Homo sapiens: one gene and its partners. The protein of the gene in region 3 interacts with the protein of the main gene of each other region in a pairwise test. Each region holds a gene or a part of one and is shown on either strand. Other genes may lie near its edges.

Region 1 (3,500 bases), on a different chromosome or scaffold from region 3:
TAATACTAGGCATTGCCCCTAGCTACCCAGGAGCATGGAAGTTCAACACCAAAGGCATGGAAGTAGTCTACTTGTCCCTAAACACAGTGTGTCTAATTCACCCTCTGGATCAGGGAGCATAAGGACTTCTAAGGCACATTACATACACTATAAAAAGGGTTCTTAATGCTGTGGAAGAGAACTTCAGAGAGAACATTATGAGGGTCTGGAAGGATTACAGTTGAAGATGATGCCATCATTTTTATAGAAAAAGTCATGAAAGCCATCAAGTCTGAAATAATAAATTCCTGTTGGAGAAAACTCTCCAGGTGATATGCATGATTTCACAGGATTTATGACAAAGCCAATCATGAAAAAGATGGTAGATATGGCAAAAAAGGTTGGAGGTGAAGGATTTCAAGATACGAATTTTGGAGAAATTAAAGAGTCAGTAGACACCATGATAGAGGAATTAACAGAAGATGACTGGGATGGATAAGAGTGCTTTCAAACCAGTGCCACAAGATGAAGAAGACAACACAGAAGTAATGTCAGAAAACAAGTTGACATTAGATAATCTGACAGAAGGGTTCTAATTATTCAAGACTGCTTTTGACTTTTTTTTTTTTTTTTTTTTTGAGACGGAGTCTCGCTCTGTCACTCAGGCTGGAGTGCAGTGGCACGATCTCAGCTCACTGCAACCTCTGCCTCCTGGGTTCAAGCAATTCTCCCACCTCAGCCTCCCAAGTACCTGGACAACAGGCACGCGCCACCATGCCTGGCTAATTTTTGTATTTTTTTAGTAAAGACAGGGTTTCTCCATGTTGGCCAGGCTGGTCTCGAAATCCTGACCTTAGGTGATCCACCTGCCTCAGCCTCCCAAAGTGCTGGGATTCTGTAATCCCACTGTAATCCCAGTGGCTGAGCCACTGCGCCCAGCCTGCTTTTGACTTTTACGACATCGACCCTTCTATGATACATCACTGAAACTAAAACAAATGGTGGAAGAATTGGTATCTCATAGAAACATTTTTAGAGAAATGAAAAAGCAGAAAAGTCAAGACAAATTATAGTGTATTTCTGTAAAGTTACACAGAATGTGCTAGCCTCTCCTGCCTCCCCCTCCACTTCTTCTGCCTCTGCCACTCCTGAGACAGCAAGACCAACCCTACCCTTCTGCCTACTCAACAGTGAAGATAATGGGGATGAAGGCCTGTATGGTGATCCAGTTAATGAATAGTAAATATACTTTCTCTTCCTTAGGATTTTCTTAATATTTTTTTCTAACTTTACTTTTAGAATATTGCTTACAATACATAAAACAAAAATGCTTCCAGTCAACAGCAGGCTATTACATTTTAGGGCAAAATTTATTATAGTTCTCAGTTACATAAGTGGGAGCTGAATGATCAGAACCCATGGACACATAGTGGGGAACAACATACACTGGAGCCTGTTTGGTGGGGGAGTTGGTCAACGGGGAGGGAGAGCATCAGGAAGAGTACCTAATGGATGCTGGGGTTAATACCTAGGTGATGGGTTGATCTGTGCAGCAAACCACCATGACACACATTTACCTATATAACAAACCTGCGCATGTACGCCAGAACTTAAAAGTTGAAGGAAAAAAAAATTTCATTATGGCAGAGTTTTGACTACATGGGTGGTCGGTGCCCCTAACCCCTCCATTGTTCAAGGGTCAAGTGCATATTAATATAATCAGAAAAATAACAGAACGAGAATTTTTTAAATTATTGCATATTGAAAGTGTACTCATAGGCAATTAGTATGCTAAATATATATTACAAGTTACGAGCAAAATAGTGGTTACATCGATTGATTTTTGAATAGTGGACCAGCCTTGCATTGATGTAATAAACTCCCACTTGGATGTGATATATAATACTGCTGCATTCACTTTGCTAGCTAACAATAGAAACTAAGATTAGAAGGAAAGCATATGTTTAGCTTAGCATGGTGGTTCCAAATCTGGCTAATCAAAATCAACTGGAGGACTTGAAAACACAAATTTCCAAACCCTAACTCTGCAGTGAGTTTGGTGTGCTGCCTAGGAACCTGCATTTTAAATATGCTTTCTAATAATATTTATGGAGCCAAGTAAGCCCAGCCATCTATTTATAAAGTGGAATAGTACATTGAGATTGTTGGTTTAGTGTTTAAAACAAAAGCAAAATATCTTTGAGAAGTCTATCAGGTTTTTCTTACACACGTGATAGACATGTAATTTAGTGCTTCCTATTATTCCAGGATACAGAAATGAACAATAGTGTCTACCACCTGGATGTACACTGTTTAATAGGTGAAATAGATATGTAAAAGCAATTAAAATATGATAAATGCTATGAGAGAGATGTAAAAAGTGTTATAGGTGATCTGATAATGGACTGATTGATTACCTGGCAGTTTTAAGGAAGCCTTTAAAAATAATATATTTGAACTGGGTTTTAAAGAATGATATAAATGTTGCTAATACACCAAAAAAATGTCATCTGCAAATATGGTTTGTTCACAAAATGGAGAGAAGGGGAGGATGATAGGACATGAGGCTAGGAAATGTAGGTTGCAGCTCAATGATGTGTATGTAGGGCCTTATTTTCCATTCTGAAACATAGTTAGTGGATTTATATCAAAGGATTTCAAATAGAAGAACATCATGATGAGAATAATTTTAGGATTTATATACTCTACTTTAGGGGGTGGAGAGTTCTTTTTACCTAGGCTTAGGGAATAGAAAGTGGTGTAGAGAATATAACTTCAATTACTTCTTTCATCATTTTTCTTCCTTTAGTCCACAAGCCCTAGCCATGCCGTGGTAGCCAATGTTCAGCTTGTCTTGCATCTAATGAAGCAACACAGTAAAGCTTTGTGCAATGATCGAGTCATCAACAGTATTCCTTTGGCAAAGCAAGTATCTTCACGAGGTGGTAAAAGTAAGAAGTTGTCAGTAACACCTCCCTCCTCCAACGGTATTAATGAGGAGTTGTCAGAAGTCTTACAGACTTTACAGGATGAATTTGGGCAAATGAGCTTGTGAGTTTTTGTTTTTTTTTTTAAATTCAGTTTAGCTCTAAAACCTCATTTTTTAAAAACTTGTTGACTTTATTAAATCTTACTTTCCTTTGTTGAGCAAGTATGGTTGAGCACAATCCTTATACCAACCAAGTTACTGGGACTTTAACAAATACAACTAATAAGGGTAAAATCTCTCTCTTTTTAAATACTGTTAAATGTTTTGAAGACCAAGGTTTATATTTAAGTTTTATTTCTTTGAGAACTTATGATATACAGTCATGCATCACTGAATGACAAAGATGTGCTCTGAGAAATACATCATTAGGCGATTTTCTTTTCCTTGTGCTAACATAAGAGTGTGCTAAGCTTATAGCTTATTGCTCCTAGGCTACAAACCTATACAGCATGTTACTCTACTACTAAATACTATATGCAGTTGTAACACAATGGTAAGTATTTGTGTATATAAACATCTAGGTAGAGTAAAA
Region 2 (3,500 bases), on a different chromosome or scaffold from region 3:
AAGTCTGCAGTCTAGCTATGGAGAATGATGACTAACACACTTCAGATCAGAGCAGAATGACCTCTCAGTATATACTTCTGTGCTGTGCTGGGTGACACAGATGGTCAGCACTCTTTTTCAGAGGAAATAGAGATATTAGGAGCTGGGGTATCAGTGAAGGTGGAATTATTTCTGATAGAACAGTGTGATTTTCAAGAGCCAGGCTCTGATGTCTAACAGGCCTGGGGTTGAATCCATGCTCAGCCACTAGTCAGCGGTGGAAACTTTGGGAAAGTTAGCTGACCTCTCTGAGTGTCAGTTTCCTCATCTGCCAGATAGTAATAGAAAGAATACCTTAAGAGGCTTTCTATGAAGGTTGAATGAGTTCTTGCTCCACTTTCAATAAATGAGAGTGATCTCCTTCATTACCATACCATCACGATCCCCTTCAGTACGAGGCTTCAGAGGATGGAGAGAGGCATTGTCCATGGGCACAGATTGAAGCCAGCATTCCCTCCAAAAAAAGGGGAAGGCAAAAGGAGTGAAGGTATGGAGATAGAAAGGAGCCAAATGTTTTACTTCTAGGCTGGGGAGGACAAGCATAGAGAGCAGTTCTTCAAATACATAGGGAGAGATGACTGGACAAAGATGGTAGGACCAAGTGATGGCGACAATCTTTTGTGACTCTCATCAAACTTTGTAGGTCGATGCTGGGAAGATAATGTGCCCTGAAAGTTGCTGGAGAATAAGATCCACATATGATGACAGACAAGGGCAACAAGAAGCTCAAACAATATTTGCTAATTGGGTTGCAAAGTAGAAAGTAAAGCTGAATCTTCCCTTTATATTTGTAGCCCATTCAGCATTTTTATTATAAAGCTTCCAAAATATAAGTAAAACCCATGCCAGCTACATTTGAACTGTTTCTTGGAACCCCATTCCTCCTTCGGTCTCCCTAACATTTCTGTAGACTCTAAATAGAGTAAGAATAATGCATCCACATTTTTCTCCATAGAACCCCACTCACATAACCATCAACCTATGGTCATAGCAAGACAGGTGAAGCCACGTTTTGATAGTGAGATGAAATCAATCAGTGAAAAGTAGTTGTTGTTTTTAAGGAGTAAAGCTTTTTTGTATCTTTAAGAGAGAAGAAATCCAAGGCCATGAGCAGAAAAATTGTCTGACTCAGAATGTAGATTGGAGAACAAACATTACCTCTACAAGGAGACTCTGGGGCTTTTCAATATTTAGGATACTAGTATTTGTCTTTAATTCCCAAAAGGGATTTTTAAAAAAAAAAAATCCAAGGATAGGATTAATTATCTTGGAATTGTCTAATATCCACTCTTATGTTTGAAATTGCAAGCAGGGAGACGTTTTAAACATTATGAAAAGAAGAGAAAATCTCCCCTGACAAATAAATGCCTTGAAACATTAGATATTAGTACTAGTCAAGTGCTCTTTCTTTTCAGAAATATTAAAATTGCATATTAAAATGAAAGATCCTTAGACTGTGCTCCTGCCTAATGCCACAAAAAATAAGAATTTAAGAACAATTTTAGAGACAAAAGATTATATGAAACATCCAGCTCTTCCCCTTATGGGAAATTTCTTTTTTTAACATCCAAGGCTCAATCATTTCCTAATGTGAAATTACAGATTTTTCAAATTACCATATAAAACTGCAAAAAAATTACACTTGTGACCACAGAAGAGATGGCATACACTATCAATTTGATTTTAAAAGGCATACATCTTTTATACTACCTGTCATTTTTATAATGCCTTTTACAAATTTAATCAATACATTTTAACATTCTATATACTTTAAGTGCAATATACAATAAATATTCAAGTTTCATCTTAAACATGCTTTAGCCTTTAAATTGTTAAAACTGCAGTGCCCTTTCAATCTACTTACATAATGTCATAAAATATACATTTCAAGGTAAATGAAGTCAGCTACTTCAATTTAGTCCCTCAAACTGGTAGTAAATGAGAGGTTAACACTATGGTGCCAAACCCATTATTGAGTAAATTTAGCACCTTGGACAGCTCTGTAAAATCTTTATTGCTTTCCTGACCTGCTCGTCATGTTCTGTCTGTGTGTTCAGTGGCTCTCAGCTCTGATTGAAAGGCAATATATTAGATCCCCAACACAAACACGCCTGGGGGCTAGTTCACTGGGAGCGTAATGACATGGAGGTGAGAGCAATTTTCTGGTCACCGAAATCCAAGCAGTTTGCAGGTCCATTGCACTAACTCATGGAGGACCCAGAAATTTCCTTTCTCCTTCCCATTTGCAGAAATACCTAATAGAAGCCAAATCACATGGGCAAAGCTCAACCAAGTCTTTCTTAAGTCCTTACAAGTTGATACTACAGTGAAGGATATTTTTTAATGGGTAAGATATTATTTAAGGGTGTCCCTTTCAAGACAAGAAATCCAGGTTCACACTCCTCAAATCCAAGACTGCTGGCCTGAAGTGATGCTGTACTGATGACCTACCTATGGCAATGTACTCAATGGGAAAACATGCCCCAGCATGGTGGATCAAAGAAGGCAGCATCATGGATCAAAGAAGGATGCTCCTTTAGGAAACAAGATCCACGTGTTTTATTCTCAAAGGATTAAATGGGGATGAGAGCTCTGGATATCGACATAAGGAGAAAAAAAAAAGTAGATTTTGTCATTGAAAAACTCTATCACCAAGGATATATAATATATACTGATAGATGGTATGTTTTCAGGCTTATGAAAACTTCAAAGATCTTGGAGTTTAATTTTGAACTTCCCTCCTCCCTGCTTCTGTGAAATTAATTAAAATAAGGTACACTGCTCTAAGTCCTCAATTATAGTGTTACAAGAGTGAAGTTCACAAGTGCAGTTTCTTTCTGTGCCTCATCACGCTTTTGACAAACGGGAGACTTGCCTTTTTCCCCCCTAAAATGGAAAGAAAGGAAAATACGTTCCCTGCCAAGCCCCAACACTGGCATAAATATTTATTTGGAGAAATAAATGAACATAGGCCTAGAGAAGTCTAATCTTAGTAAATAAACTCACTTGATCCTGTTTTTTGTTTTCATCTTTCCTAAGAGCCAGATAAAGCCAAGAGGTTTTAGTGAAGGCAACACAGGCTGAATTTGATCTGGGGATAGGGTTTAGTGTGCCCGTACAATAGTAAATTATTAACTGCTGTGGTCAGACACTACTACAGCAAACAAAAAGTGGTAAATTAGCTTGTAGCTTACATTAAAAAATAAAGAAATGATTTCAGATGTATTGGTTCAAATCCCTTTGATTATATAATGTTCTTTACTCCCTACATGAAAAATAACTAAACTGTTTTATAAAGGGGGTCTATCAGCTTAAGGCAAGCATAAATGTTTATTGAGAACTGAAAACCCCACTATCTTATTTTTGAATTTAGGACATTAGATATGTCATAAGTAGTTACTGTAGTATGACAACTACTTTATCTTATATTATAGAGAATTTAAAATTGAAAAATGCTAATA
Region 3 (2,324 bases):
GAGGACCCTCCAGAAGAGCAGAGTGCAGGCAGGGCATCCCAGCTCCACCATGTCACCCCCGCAGCCCTGGTGTCATCTGTGACAGTACCTCACAGTGCCTTCGAGGAACAGTTCAGGGAGACAGTGCATGGGAAGCGTGGAGAGGCACCCAGCATGCGATCAGTGCCCTGTGAGCAGGGTTGATGCCATTACCTTACTCAGGCTGGCAAGGACACAGGGCTGAGAGAGCCTGTCTGCCTGAGAACCACTCTTCCCCCCTGCCCTCTTACTGGCCTGACACCAGAAAGTAGCGCCTGCCTCCTGGGACACTAGAGGTGGCTATGTCAGGAGGACCCTTAGGACTCCTGGGTGGGAGATGAGCGGAAACATGCACATCAGGTGACCTTGTCAAGCCTGTCCAGGCTTTTAGCCCAGAAACAACTTCTATTTTCTACTTTCTAGAGTAAATCATTTGTTTTAGAACAGTAGGAACAAATAGAAACAACCAGCTTAGACCACAATTGTTTCAAAAGATTGTTTGATTAAAAGCCAGCCAAAAAAAAGCCTTCAGGCTGAGGCTGAAGAACACAAATAGAGTTGTCTGTGGATTACATGATTGTTTCCCCAGTGCAAGGTTCCTGACCACAGGCAGCAGATATCCAAACACGCCATGGGAGATAAGCTGTTTAACCCTCTGGAACCTAGACAAAACAGGAAGAATGGAGAAGTGCAGAGGCATACGTGAAAACAGGGCTCAGCACATTTCCAGGGTGGAGAAATATTTAATAAAATCAGAGTCGAGAGAAAGTCACTTGCACAATTCATCTCCTACATTCACTGCTGGCCAGGCCAGGGGCACCTGGGTTGAAATCAGGCTGACCTCCGGACAGCCGTACTAGCGCACTGTGTCTCGGGGGGAATCTCAGGGTGACGCTGAGGCCGAGTCCCCAAAAGCCAAGGAAGCCAGCCCCACAGGCTGGGGAGCCCTGAAGGCCGGGGGAGCTGTGGCTGCACTGCCTCTATCCTGCTGAGTGTGCTCTGCCCAGGCCTCACTCCTTCAGGAGCTTGTGCTTGACTGTGGTGCTCTCGGAGCAGAGATGGATGAAGAGGGTGCCGGCGGCGGTGCGGGCCCGCAGCTCCTGCAGCTCATAGTCATGGGCCCACTCAATGTTGCCCCACTTCTGGATCTGAGGGAAGGACAAGACAAGTTGCTGGGTGAGTGGCCAGTGCCTGGCTGCCTCCTGACCAAAGCCACGTTCCATTCCAATAGGTTGGCTGAGGGCAACAGGTTTGTATCTTGCCAAAACACATGAGACATGCCTAGGGGGAGGTGGCAGGTAAGAACACCCAGGTACGCCAGACACGGTGGCTCACGCCTGTAATCCCAGCACTCTGGGAGACCGAGGCAGGAAGACTGCTTGAATCCAGGAGTTCAAGACCAGCCTGGGCAAATATGGTGCAACCTCGCCTCTACAAAAAGGTTTAAAAATTAGCTGGGTGTGGTGGGGGTGCACCTGTAGTCCCAGCTATTTGAGAGACTGAGGTAGGAGGACTGCTTTGAGCCCAGGAGGCTGAAGCTGCAGTAAGCCAAGATCACACCGCTGCACTCCCACTTGGGCAACAGAGCAAGACCCTGTCTCAAAAACACCACACACACACACACACACACACACACACACACACACACCCCACCACCCCACCCCCAGGGAGCCGGAGCAGGCACCTGTGCTCTCTGTGGCATGGATGGTCTGGAAGAAGTGCAGTCCAGGCCCAGGCCCAGGGCCAGTGGCTGCCCACCCACCACTGGGCAGGCTGGGTACCAGAACCACCCATGTGACTTCTTTGAGGAGGCCTTATGTGCCATCCCTTCTCCTACACTTCCTCCCAGAAAGCCTGTGAATGGACAGCCTCTCCAAGTTGCCTTGCCATGCTGGGCTACAAGTGCCCCCCAGCGCCATGTGGGTGGAATAACTAAATCAAGTAAGGCCACGCAGTGGCTTCAACTCTGACTCTTGTGGTAGTCACAGAACTACAGATGCCTCTGCTCTGCACACTGGGGACAAGTTGCAGATTCTCTGTCTGGAGCTCTAAAAACAAGAGGGAGGAACGCTCAGACACACGATGTGGCTGTCCAGACAGTGTAAGTCCAACCAAACCTTGCTGGCTCCTCCCTGGCTAGTTGCCCAAGAGGCCTGGCCTGGCCGCCCCAGCTCATCCAGGAACTCAGAATCCACCATGCTACACAAGCTATTTGAACTTCTGGGCTGCCTGGTCCCAAACTGTACAATTGTAATATGTCATCTGAAGAGTATTCCATACTTTCATTGTATACCATCACATACATA
Region 4 (2,489 bases), on a different chromosome or scaffold from region 3:
GTAATGCTGTGTGGTGCTATGGGGACCTCTGCCTACCCTACTGTGGGGCTTCTTTCCCCTACCCCATTCCTAATCCAGGAATTACTCAACAAGATCATAATTTAGAATTTGTTTTATTATATTGGTGCCAACCAAATAAATGCCCAACCACTGTTCTTATGAAGTTACTGAGTTCTTAAAAATGATGCCTAAAAAAGGTATCAATTTAGTTATATCAATTTAGTTATGGCCGGGCTGCCATATAGAAAAACATGATAAAACTGTGAAGGGTACTAGATTTGAAATAGATTCCAAGAAATAAAAATACCTAGATTGTCAGAGAAGGAAAGTTCATAGCTTAATTCTTTGGTGTGGTCCATCTCACAAAGTATATATAAAACTAGGAAAAGTCCAAAATAGTTGGATATATTTAAGCTGTTTCCAACATGCAGTTAGATTTGTGTTTATTAAATCTGCTTTTCCATATACATACAGAAAATTTAAAAAGAATAGAGAACACATTTCCAAGGATGAAATTTCCACATTTATTTTTCTTTTATGTGAATAGAAAATGGCAGTGAAGTGTCCTATGAATGAGGCGAGGAATGGGCATGGCGCTGCGGTACCAGCCTGGACGTTGTGCTTCCAAAGTACACTATGTGTGGTGGAGACAAAGGGTGTCGCGGTTTGCTTTTAATTGCTCACAGTTCCTTGGGCTTCTCATTTGTTTTTGAAGTTGTCAGTTTCTTCAAATCTCTTTTCAAGTGACACATTGCATTACAAATGATGGCACTTAACCAATGTGGCATTTCCATATTTACACCAACAAAAGAAATTTACAAGACATAATAGCATACAATCTTGACATTTAGTAATAGCAATAAAACATGGGCATCCATTTTATTTTTTCTGTACAAACTATCAGAACATAACTTTATTCACATTAAAAAAATCATCTTTAATTTGATTTGACCTACATATCCCCCATTTCATTTCACCCATTTCTCAAACCTCTCATCACGTCACCCACACCTTCACCAGACTACAGAATCTATAAGTAATTAGATCTAACACCTAAATAGAGCTTAGAAAGTCCTCTCCCAAACATTTCCTCACTTCCCTGATAATTCCTCAAAAAAGAAAAAAAAAACACACTTCATTCATTCCTTCCACTTCACTTTCACATTTCAATCATCAAATCAGCAAGATGGACTTTTCACCTCAATCTGAACAAGGTTAGAAAGAAAGAGTTCCTCTGTTGGGCATCTTGATGCTACACCCATGAGTCTGGGGACCCTGGGTACTGTTCTGCTCTATAAGAAGGTCGTTTAGTGGAATAAAAGTCTACATAATTTGTGGTCGATTTCAGTCCATACTGTGTTGAGTAATCAGTAGAAGCTGGAAAGTGAACTCGGTCATCAAAATAAGGATCTTCATAGCTATGAGGAGACTGCAAATACAATCTGTATGCATCAAAGTTCTTTCTGTTGGAGTCATCTTGACTATAATACAGCTGTTGATGCTGTTGACAAAATGAAAAGGCAAATAAATAAAAGCAATTTTTTAAAAATACATGTGTTAGGAAAATTAATGTGGGCTTCCTGCTTCATATTTTTAAAGCAATATTCAATATTTGCAGTTTAAGGTTAAAAGCTGTTTCTGGTGCACACTATGCGTTTACTATTGGACTCTAAGGATTTTAAGCTGCATTCTCAGGCAGGCTGCTGAGTTTCCTGTCCTAAGACCTCTAGAGAAGCAGGTGCCTCAAGAAAGCCTGAGATCTCAGGGCAGGTGGCCCCAGAAACCTCCCCTCTTTACTGGAGGCCCTGCTGTGTGCTCAGCTGTGGAGGCACCTGTTACCTGGGCATGCCGAATGAGAGGATGGTCTTGATATTTGGTTTGACACAGGGGAATTATTAGCACATCACTAATTTAGTCAAGGACTGGGTTTCTGGGCCTTGGATAATTGTATAATTACCGAACCATCTTTTAGAACATTTACTTCAGATATGAAGATGGAGTCCACCCCTACATTTTAAAAGATGTATGTGGCTAGGTGAACAACAGTCACACTTTGGAAACTCTGCTGTAAGTTGTAATATTAAAGGAATAAGCAATCTCAAGGCAGAAGAATAGTAAAATTAGGAGACACACGTGAGCAAATATGGTTCTAGAGGAAAAGGCTTCCCCAAGCCAGGGCTAAGTCCATCTGTAAGTGGGCAAGACCAGGCACACGTGGGCACCCACACAGGGCACACTGCTCTCCATTTCCTTTTGTTCAGTCTTAGCTTTGACCTCACACTAATTTCTTCAAATTGTGATGGTTATTATGTCTATGTTCTTGATTATGCCCAAATCCCCCTACTTAGTAAGATGTAACAAATTTACCACATAGAAACCAATGTCATGTCCTGGAACTCAATGCATTCTAACATTATAAGGATTTCAGAGCTAAATTCTCCTTTCAAGCCAGAGTTATGATTCTGGTCTATTTTTCCTGACTAAAAAAC
Region 5 (3,500 bases), 2.4 Mb from region 3:
CTGAAGGTGGTCAGGAGGGCAAAGGTCATGGTGGCCATTGTTATATGGTGGTGGTGGGGAGAGGTGCATGCCTTCTTCTTGACACTCTCTGGTGACCCTCTCGGTGGAACCTGCAGACCCTTGATGGGTCCCTTTGTTCCCTTGGGCCTCCTGAGTCCCCAGCCAGGGCGCTGGGCACTTTGCTGGGAGCTTGGCATGGGGTCCAGCAGCCCCATTGCTACCTAGTTCCTTACCAGCCCAGGGCGTCTGCCTGCTACTTCCCTGCCTGGAAGGAAGGCCTTCCGCCTGGAGCGTTCCTGGTGTGGCCTCCGCTGCCTCTCAGACTCTCACACAAGCTCAGCTCCCTGTCGCGTCCTCTCAGGGCCAGGATTCTCCTTATCACAAGCTTAGACTGTCTGAGTAACTAATTGGATTTGTGTCTGCCTCCACACAGGACCCTAAGACCCGTGGGGCTGAGACTCCTTCTGTCCTGGTCACAGCTGCACCCTAGCCCCTCGCATGGTGCGGTCACACCCAGGCCAGCCACTGACTAGCCCCGAAGGGGAGCAAACAGGAGGCCGGCCACCTGACTGAGGCCCCATGTCTTCTCCCTGCAGGCCGTCCCCTTTTCTGGGACTATCCAAGGGGGTCTCCAGGACGGATTTCAGATCACTGTCAATGGGGCCGTTCTCAGCTCCAGTGGAACCAGGTGTGTGTATATGGATGGAAACGTTTCACTCCAGCCTCGTCCCTTAGTAAAGCCACTGTGCCTGTGAGCCTCGGTTAGTTCAAACAACAACATCCAAGCTCACGTGCCTGGCGCAGGGGAGACCCAATGCATCCTTAACCCATGCCACAGGACAGCACTCCACAGGCACAACCTGCACCCAGGGATGCCATTAACCTGGACTCCAGGATGAATGGGGCCCTGGGAGCTGAAGGTCTAAGGAAGGAGTGGGATGGTCAGAGTTGGATGATTATGTTCTGGGCTGAACCTTGCACACTGTGACTGAGAGTTGCAAAAATCAAACTTCCTCCGTTTCCCATAACTGCTTTCATCCACTCTGAAGCTCTCCTTCTGCTGACATGAAAATACTGAAAATTGACATCCGAAGTAATTTGGTCTCTTTCGGTTTCAAGGCCTTTTCTGGAAACTACTAAGTCCATTCAAAATACTAACATTGTATCAGGGCTGTTTCCCACCCCTTCCTCCCTCCCAAGGTGGGCTGTCTGGGAACAGAGAGGAGCTCACGTGGCTTGTCAGTGGCTGGGAGGGCCCCCGACCCTCACGCAGGCCTGGCTGACCCCTGCCGAGGCATCCTGACTGGGTGGCACAGAGGTGTGCAGCTCTCTCCTGGTTTAGTGAGGGACCACGGGTGGCTGCCTGCTGAAGTCTGCGGGGCCCACAGAAGAGCCTCTGGACTCATGGCTCTCTCTCGGAAGCCTCTCTGCCTCAGTCCCAGTGGACCTCTCTTAAGACCCTCTGGGCCTCGTAGATGCCAGCTCAACCTCAGCTCCGCCACCTAGATTCTTGATGACCTCCTCCGCCATTGCTATCCTGCTGTCGGACTTCTCTGAGAGCCTGCAGTGCCCCCAGGAGATGCCAAGGGCAGGGAGGCCCTGATCCCCCTGAATCCTCCAACCGGGGGAATCAGAACCATGCCTCTGATCTTCCACCCCTTCCTCTTTCCCTCTCCCTCTGTTTCCCCCACCTCCCAGCACCAGGAGGGCTTCCCACTCCCATCCTGTTGCACAGAGACAGATCCTACCTCAGAGGGCCCTCTCCTCTCAGGAGCTTTCTGTCTCTCCCTTCCTTGGGGCAGGAATTTCCAAAGGGCCACAGGAATGAAGCTGAAGGTCTCCAAAGGAAAAAAATACATGCAGTGATATTTCAAATGCAATCTTCTCCATTTATTCATTTAATTAATTTATTTTTTTCTTTAGAGACAGGGACTTTTTTCTTTCACCCAGGCTGGAGTGCAGTGGTACGATCATAGCTCACTGCAGCCTCGACTTCCTGGGCTCAAGGGATCCTCCCATCTCATCCCCCAGAGCAGCTGGGACTATAGACATGCATCATGATGTCTAGCTAATTAAATATATATATATATCTTTTTGTTTTTTAAGTAGAGATGAGATCTCGCTCTGTTGCTCAGGCTGGTCTTCAACTCCTGGGCTCAAGTGATCCACCCACCTTGGCGTCCCAAAGTGCTGTGATTACAGGCGTGAGGCACTGCGCCCGGCCCCGATTTCACATGCTCTTTACATTTGTTCTCTTCTTTCGCACTTAATCAGGCATGTGCTGGCCTCCAACAAGTGTCCACTGGCACAGAAGCCTCTCTCTTCTAGGTGTGCTTAACAACTTCCATCTTTGTTACCAACTGGTAATCACTTTCCAGGACCTATGCTTCTTGTTTGCTAATGCCAGCACTTTCCCTTAGCCATTTTCTACTTATGTTTAGAAAATCGTGCTGTAAAGGCAAAATGCAATAATCGCACAAAAACACATTGGATCCAAATTAGAGAAACAAAAACGATGCCAACCAAGCAGTCTCTGCCACGCAGGTTGTATGCAAGATCCCAGACAAACACAGGGCAGAGGCACCGAGGCCCTCCTGTGCCTGTCACTGGCAATAATCCATGCCACAGAAGACTATTTGCTTTTCCTGGGCCTAGGTTTGCTGTGGACTTTCAGACGGGCTTCAGTGGAAACGACATTGCCTTCCACTTCAACCCTCGGTTTGAAGACGGAGGGTATGTGGTGTGCAACACGAGGCAGAAAGGAAGATGGGGGCCCGAGGAGAGGAAGATGCACATGCCCTTCCAGAAGGGGATGCCCTTTGACCTCTGCTTCCTGGTGCAGAGCTCAGATTTCAAGGTAAGCAGGAATCCCCTCCCCACCTCTCGCCCACGGGACTCCCAGCCCTATCAGGTGAATGTGAATGGCCTTTTAAGTAACCACTTTAATTGACATTCAGCCAGAGTGACACCACCATACAGATAACATGACCATTTCCTTGTAAGGGTGTTACCCATGGCTGTGTAGTCTCCTTACGCACCTTCACCTGAATCTACAGGTGCACCTCCTGCTTCTTTTACTCTGAAAATAAGAACTAGAGGAGTCATCACGTTGCTGTTAGGTGTTGTGTGTCTTTGAATTCCAAGCTCATTCCATTCCTCTGCTATCACCATACCTCCTCTCCAGGTCCCTGGTAACATTTATTTTTCAGCGACATTGTTCCAGCCTTTATCCAGAGTCTATTACGGTTATAGTTCTGTAAGCACATTGCAAATTACCTTTGCAAGCACAGTAGGTCTCTGGGCTTGAGAAGCCGGTGGGTAACTCAGTCTGAATATGCTTATCTGAGATAAGGATGTTCCCATCCATTCAGTATGCAACCCGATGTCACCTCTCCTCTGCTCCCCGTGAGCATTTTATGCATATTTAAATAATACCCCTGCAGTCCTAAAAAGGAATGAGATCATGTCCTTTACAGGAACATGGATGGAGCTGGAAGCCG
Region 6 (3,500 bases), on a different chromosome or scaffold from region 3:
TGATATTCTTGCTGTCAAGGACAGTTTGGGAAATCCTATGTGAGCATCTACTCATAATTGCCTTAAGTGAAGTAAACCAAAAGTTTGATAGCATTCTTCTTAGTATGCTTGGTAGTTTTCTTAGATTTATGATGAATATCCTTGGGCAGTAGTGATCAGGTAGTTAAGAAACCCCTATAGATACATGATAATAATTCTCCTGTCTTGTTGTCTCTGAAAGGCCCACCTGTAGATCCAGATGAAGACTCTGACAACAGTGCAATTTATGTACAAGGATTAAATGACAGTGTGACTCTAGATGATCTGGCAGACTTCTTTAAGCAGTGTGGGGTTGTTAAGGTCAGTAAAAGCATAACCAGGTCATCTGGCAGAACTTTAAACCACAGAGCATTTTAAAGAGATTGAATTGATGTTGAGAGTTGTTTTCTAAGGTTGCCTTTGCCTGACTTCTTTCTAGGTATCTTATGGTTTGTTCCTTTTTAAAAAAGATTAGCCTTTTTTTTTTTTTTTTTTTGAGACGGAGTTTCCTTCTTGGTGCCCAGGCTGGAGTGCAATGGCGCAAGTCTTGGCTCACTGCAACCTCTGTTCAAGCGAATCTCCTGCCTCAGCCTCCCAAGTAGCTGGGATTACAGGTGTGCGCCACCAGCTAATTGTGTCTTTTTAGTAAAGATGGGGTTTCACCGTGTTGGGCAGGCGGGTCTCAAACTCCTGACCTCAGGTGATCTGCCCACCTTGGCGCCTCCCAAAGTGCTGGGATTACAGGTGTGATCCCCTACGCCCGGCCTTCCCTCCTCCACCCCTAGGGACAGAGTGTTGCTCAATCTCAGCCTCCCAGGTTCAAGTGATTCTCCCACCACAGCCTCTTGAGGTAGCTGGACTTATAGGCACATGCCACCACACCCAACTAATTTTTATATTTTTAGTGGAGATGGATTTTTGCCTGTTGGCCGGGCTGGTCTCTAACTCCTGGCCACCTCAAGTGGCCACCTACCTCAGCCTCCCAAATTGCTGGGATTACAAGCATGAGCCACTACACCCAACCTCAAATTATTGTGTCTTTATGCTAATTCTTCATAGCTAGTAACGCAGATTTTTTCTTCAGGGATTTTGACTGTTTTTCAGTTCTTGCTCTTCTGTATTAGAGTTAGTTTATGAACCCCATAAACCTCAAAACCTTAAAACCCCAATTGAATATTTACTAAATCTATGAAGTAATTTCAGGAGAATTTACATTTTTATGATACTGAGTGATCTTTTTTTCCCCATGAAGATTTTATTTCTCCATTTATTTGTATATTTATTTGCTTATTTATTTACTGAGACAGTCTTGCTGTGTCACCAGGCTGGAGTGCAGTGGCACGATCTCGGCTCACTGCAGCCTCTGGCTCCTGGGTTCAAGCGATTGTCCTGCCTCAGCCTCCTGAGTAGCTAGGATTACAGGTGCCCGCCACCACACCCAGCTAATTTTTGTATTTTTAGTAGAGATGGGGTTTGGTGAAACCATGTTGGTCAGGCTGGTCTTGAACTCCTGACCTCAGGTGATCTGCCGCCTCAACTCCCAAAGTTTTGTGATTGCAGACATGAGCCACTGTGCCTGGCCTGTCTCTATTTGTTATTTTATTTTACTTTGAGACAGAGTCTCACTCCTTCACCCGGCTGGATTGCAGTGGCGCAGTCTTGGTTTACTGTAACCTCTGCCTCCCGGGTCTCCTTGCCTCAGCCTCCCGAGTAGCTGGAATTACAGGCGCCTGCCAGCACCCCTGGCTAATTTTTGTAAGTAGAGATGGGATTTCACCAGGTTGGTCAGGCTGGTCTTGAACTTCTGACCTCACGTGATCCACCCACCTAGGCCTCCCAAAGTGCTGTGATTACAGGTGTGAGCCACCACACCCAGCCTATTTAGATCTTCAGTAAAGACTATCGATTTCCTTAAAGGTCTTGCAAATTTTACTAGTTTTACTTCTAGGTTTCGTTTATTTTCAAGTTGCTGTGGTTAAGGGTCTTCGTTAAATGACACTTTTCTGGTTATTACTGGTGTATAGAAATACAGTTGATTTGGCCGGGCGCGGTAGCTCACGCCTGTAATCCTAGCACTTTGGGAGGCCGAGGCGGGTGGATCACGAGGTCAGGAGATCGAGACCATCCTGGCTAACACGATGAAACCCCGTCTCTACTATAAATACAAAAAATTAGCCAGGCTTGGTGGCGGGCACCTGTAGTCCCAGCTACTCGGAGGCTGAGGCGGGAGAATGGCATGAACCTGGGAGGCGGAGCTTGCAGTGAGCTGAGATGGCGCCACTGCATTCCAGCCTGGGTGACTGAGTGAGACTCCGCCTCAAAAAAAAAAAAAAAATACAGTTGATTTTGGGCGGGCGTGGTGGCTCATGCCTGTAATCCCGGCACTATGGGAGGCCGAGGTGGGTGGATCACGAAGTCAAGAGATCGAGACCATCCTGGCCAACGTGGTGAAACCCCGTATCTACTAAAAATACAGAAATTAGCCGGGTGTGGTGACACGCGCCTGTAGTTGAGCTACTTGGGAGTCTGAGGCAGGAGAATCAGTTGATCCCAGGATGCAGAGGTTGCAGTGAGCTGAGATGGCGCCACTGCACTCCAGCCTGGCGACAGAGCAAGACTCCATCTCAAAAAAAAAAAGGAAATACAGTTGATTTTGGTAAATCTTATATAAGGTGATTTCTCCCTGCTTGTAGGTGTGTGTGTGCACAGATATCACACACACCTCAAAAGTAAAATGCTTTTAGTGTCTACTGTCACATTCTACCCTGTGCAAGACTCCTTGTTTGCTTTTTTGTTTTGAGATGGAGTCTTGCTCTGTTGCCCAGACTGGAGTGCAGTGGCACAATTTCAGCTCACTGCAACCTCCGCCTCCTGGGTTCAAGCCTCAAGCCTCTTGAGTAGCTGGGAGTACAGGCTTGAGCATATTAAAAAGACTGCTTTTTAATATGTATATAACATGTAGTTTATTGAGGAATGTGGAGTTTATCCTGGTTAAGAAAGTAGTATTTACCATCAAAATTTTGGAAATAAAGATGTTAAAATAGATTTCCAAGCTGGATACAGTGGCTCACATGTGTAATCCCAGCACTTTGGGAGGCCAAGGCAGGAGGATCCCAAGGATTGCTTGAGCCCAGGAGTTTGAGACCAGCCTGGACAACAGAGTGAGACTCTGTCTCACAAAAAAGAAAAAAATGCATTTCCACATTATTCATACCACAGTTTTGCCATATTTTCTTTTCAGTTTTTAGGTATCACGTTCCTTTTTTTAAGTCAGAGGTATCAATATATATATCCTGTTGTAATCTTTTTTAAGTCCTATAAATAGATTGCTCTTGTGTTACTGGATATATGTAAACAATTACAGACTAAACTGATCGTGTGCATATATAATGCAAAAAAGTACACGTGAAGATATTCTTATACAAGGTAGCTCCTGAATTCAAGTCAACCACATCTGATATTCAGCTGAAAGACTAGTCATC
Region 7 (3,500 bases), on a different chromosome or scaffold from region 3:
ATATTTTCAGTCTTTTACTTTTGTACCTACAGGTGGACAATTTGCTTCAAATGGTATCTCAGGACCCACCTATTCCTATTAGGTACTCCCTATTCTCAGCCAATCTATCTGTTCCCCACATGTGTTCACCCTGCCCCAAACCTTATGCCCATGAAACAAGCACAGAGTCATGGTTTGCACTGATGGGCCTATCTCATCCGACTCCCATTCGATTCTTGTATAAAGGACTGGGCTGCCTGTGCTCAAGAGCATCCTGTAGAGGGAGCTCAGAGTCTCCTGGCACAATCCACTCTGCTCCTTGATGGCTTTTCCTAGAAAACCATGCTTCTAGAATTAAATTGCTGCTGCTGGGTAGCTCTTTTAGCTCCTTATCTTTATAGCTCCAAGACAATCTGTAATAGCTTCTGCCAACCAAGCCTCATGCTTCTTGGGTTTTTTTTTCTTTCTTTCTTTCGGTTTTGGTTCTTTTTCTCTTTTTTTTCTGTTTTTGACAGTGTCTTGCTCTGTCACCCAGGTTGGAGTGCAGTGGCACAATCTCAGCTCACTGCAGCCTCGACCTCCCAGCTCAGGTGATCCTCCCGCCTCAGACTCTTGAGTAGCTGGGACTATAGGTGCACACCACCATGCCAGGCTAATCTTTGTATTTTCTGTAGAGACAAGGTTTTGCCACGTTCCCCAGGCTGGTCTCAAACTCCTGGACTCAAGAGATCCGTCTGCCTCGGCCTCCCAAAGTGCTGGGATTACGGGAATGAGCCACCATGCCCAGCCCCTCATGCTTTTTCAACAGACACCCTTCTCCCTCCCTGCTGGCCTCAACTCTACCTTTCCACAAAGTTCTGGCATCTGGTTTAGAGCCTCTATTCACTCCTCAGATGTTGGTATTGAACTTCGTTACCGGAGTGCTCAGGGAATACACTCCGACCTTCCAATGCCTCAACTGATTTTGCACATATCCACATCCCCCTCATCCCAGCACTGCCTCAGACTCTCTGGATGACCCAACACACTGACTCACCAAGCAACCCCAAACTCATCTTCCCCAAAATGGCTTCCTTTCTAATTTATATAAACTAAGTGGCAGTGTGACAATATTTTTCCCTCTCTGTTGATAACACCAATTTCAACCCAGTCTCTAATGCTAGAACTTCAGATTAATCCTAGACATTCTAACCCCCATCATCACTCATTGCTGACAGTTAATACTCAAGTCCTGCCAATTTTATTACCTACGTTATTTCTGGAATCTGACTCTTCTTCACTGTGGTACAATCAGTAAACTAGGTCAACAGCTGGGGACACTTTAGCTCTACTTCCAGTCTTGTCCCACACTGAATCTATCCTCTGCCCAGCTGACAACCTGACTTCATCAACTCCTGAATGAACCTCTTGAATGAATCACCACTAACTAGAGCAGTGGTATTCAGAGTGTGGTCTCCAGACCACCACCAGTAGCGGATGCAACACTTGGGAATTTGTTAGGCAAATTCTTGGGCCCCACTCTGAGAGAAGTCCATACTTCAGTGAGCCCTCCAGGTAATTCTGATGTACACTGAAGTCTGAGAACCCTGGATTGGAGGATAAAATCCAAACTCAGGAAACTGAGCTGTATTAGGTGACAAAGTGATGGAAAGGTGCACAACTATACACAGAGAATCTATCCGGGAAGCGCTGCAAACAAAATTCCAGAGAAGGAACAACAAACTCTAAATGTAATCTGAAAGATGGCACAAGTGGCAGAGAGAGAAGGAAAAACAACAAGACTTTGTGTCTCTCTGGAAATGGTATCAGGGGAGAACATAGTCAACAATTACACAGCAATTTAGAAACTGAGTGATCAGGACTGCAATATAGTGTGATGTCAGACACTTGTGGAAAAACCAGAAGAGGGTGGGAGCTCCAAGGAAGCTGATATATCAGTGACACAGTCAGGTAGAGAAAACTGAAGGATGTGAGAAATATGAGATTATGATTTGGGATATGGTTCATGGATACTAAGTTACTGGATAAATAAGTGCCAGGAGAAAAGAAATGACAAAGCAGCAACTCCGTCTCAAAAAGTGAAATGTAATTCAAGAAATCAATTCTCTGTCCCAAAAATGTAAGGTACTTATGTTCACCTTACAAATGAATCCAGTTAAGATGCAAAGCAATTATGTGACTGGCTCAAGGCTATGATGCCACTGAGGCCTAACAGATCCCTAACTTCAGGTGTCCTGTTGGGAGTGTAGACTTTTCCTATCACAGCCCATTGCCTCACTTCGCCAGCAGTACTGACCTCAAGGACATATGTTTCCTGATTCTGAAGCCCAAACTTCCTCCTTTCTTTTGGAGGACAAATTAGATAGGCCCCCTCTTTCTTGTCTTCTTCCTGCTGTCCCTCTGCTGCTACTTCCCAAAAACCTTGTGCCCTTGCTGATCTTAGTCACTTCCATCCTATCCTGGATCCCTACATCACCAGCCTGAGTCCCTCGTTCTCACAATTCCCTCTGCAGAGGGACAGCTACTGAACCTGGGGATCCTCTGGCCCAGGAGAGATTCTCAGTATTCAGGAGGCTGTACTTCAGCTTTCCAGATCACTCTCTCCTGTTTCCATCTTCACTGCCCCTAGCTCTTTCCCCAGCACCCAGTCCTACTGGAGGGAATCAGCAGGGGTTTTCCTACTGCTTTGGCTCTAAGACTTGCCAGAATCACCTTTATCCACCTCATTTCCTTCAACTCAGACCTCCATAGAGCTGACCTCAGGGATCCACAGCTCACCTGGTATTGAGCTTTCAGAGGCATGGCTGCCATGACCTGGTCTCCCTCTTAGCAGGCAAAGGCTGAGGGAAGAAACAGAGAGAACCAACAGTGAGCTCAGCCCAGTAAAATGCTCTCTTTAGAGCAATAAATTTGCCAATAGCAAGCAGCATTCACTTACTAAATGCTCACTGGGTTAGTGGTGCATAAATATGTACTTTTTAATCCACATCATACCATGAGGTTTGTAATTCTGAGGAAACAGATTTTGAAAGAATAAGTAACTTGTCCTAGGACACCAGAGCCTGTCCTCACCAACACCAAGCTAAATGAAGAGCAAAACAAGCAAAAGACACCAATAAACTCAGAGCGAAACCTAACAAGAAGAATCTCAGACCTTTATTTTTAAAAATAAATTTGACTGAGAATATAAAAGGTTAAAAATAGCAAGTATCATGCTTTTGGATGAAAAATACATATTCTCTTATTTAGTCCTCACAACAATCTTTTGAACCTTTAATTTTTCCCAAATGAGAAGACAAGGCTAAGAGAATAATTTCTTCTACCAAGATCACTCAGCTGGTGAATGGATGAACTCGGATCCCACACTAGATCTGCCAGGCTTCAAAGGTCATGTTTTTGTCTGTTTGTTTGTTTGTTGAGACAAGAATCTCACTGTCACCTGGGCTGGAGTGCAATGGCGTGATCTCAGCTGACTGTAACCACGGCCTCCCAGGTTCAAGCAATTCTCCTGCCTCAGCCTC

The links.
Region 1: the proteins of ATPAF2 (region 3) and CEP57 interact in binary tests that used the Homo sapiens proteins (3 or more experiments, as listed by UniProt).
Region 2: the proteins of ATPAF2 (region 3) and EBF1 interact in binary tests that used the Homo sapiens proteins (3 or more experiments, as listed by UniProt).
Region 4: the proteins of ATPAF2 (region 3) and PKP4 interact in binary tests that used the Homo sapiens proteins (3 or more experiments, as listed by UniProt).
Region 5: the proteins of ATPAF2 (region 3) and LGALS9B interact in binary tests that used the Homo sapiens proteins (3 or more experiments, as listed by UniProt).
Region 6: the proteins of ATPAF2 (region 3) and EWSR1 interact in binary tests that used the Homo sapiens proteins (3 or more experiments, as listed by UniProt).
Region 7: the proteins of ATPAF2 (region 3) and ZNF19 interact in binary tests that used the Homo sapiens proteins (3 or more experiments, as listed by UniProt).

What each region holds. Positions count from the first base shown.
Region 1 is NC_000011.10:95,824,998-95,828,497, forward strand, and holds part of CEP57 (centrosomal protein of 57 kDa), read left to right. Parts: intron 1-2,788; coding exon 2,789-3,030; intron 3,031-3,500. UniProt on the Homo sapiens protein: Centrosomal protein which may be required for microtubule attachment to centrosomes. May act by forming ring-like structures around microtubules. Mediates nuclear translocation and mitogenic activity of the internalized growth factor FGF2, but that of FGF1.
Region 2 is NC_000005.10:158,715,417-158,718,916, reverse strand, and holds part of EBF1 (transcription factor COE1), read left to right. Parts: intron 1-3,500. UniProt on the Homo sapiens protein: Key pioneer transcription factor of B-cell specification and commitment. Recognizes variations of the palindromic sequence 5'-ATTCCCNNGGGAATT-3'.
Region 3 is NC_000017.11:18,017,521-18,019,844, forward strand, and holds the end of ATPAF2 (ATP synthase mitochondrial F1 complex assembly factor 2), read right to left. Parts: intron 1,167-2,324; coding exon 1,029-1,166; 3' UTR 501-1,028; downstream 1-500. UniProt on the Homo sapiens protein: Plays a role in the assembly of the F1 component of the mitochondrial ATP synthase (ATPase).
Region 4 is NC_000002.12:158,679,441-158,681,929, reverse strand, and holds the end of PKP4 (plakophilin-4), read right to left. Parts: intron 1,502-2,489; coding exon 1,253-1,501; 3' UTR 501-1,252; downstream 1-500. UniProt on the Homo sapiens protein: Plays a role as a regulator of Rho activity during cytokinesis. May play a role in junctional plaques.
Region 5 is NC_000017.11:20,457,540-20,461,039, reverse strand, and holds part of LGALS9B (galectin-9B), read left to right. Parts: intron 1-596; coding exon 597-688; intron 689-2,655; coding exon 2,656-2,857; intron 2,858-3,500.
Region 6 is NC_000022.11:29,292,268-29,295,767, forward strand, and holds part of EWSR1 (RNA-binding protein EWS), read left to right. Parts: intron 1-220; coding exon 221-339; intron 340-3,500. UniProt on the Homo sapiens protein: Binds to ssRNA containing the consensus sequence 5'-AGGUAA-3'. Might normally function as a transcriptional repressor. EWS-fusion-proteins (EFPS) may play a role in the tumorigenic process.
Region 7 is NC_000016.10:71,479,325-71,482,824, forward strand, and holds part of ZNF19 (zinc finger protein 19), read right to left. Parts: intron 2,820-3,500; 5' UTR 2,791-2,819; coding exon 2,758-2,790; intron 1-2,757. UniProt on the Homo sapiens protein: May be involved in transcriptional regulation.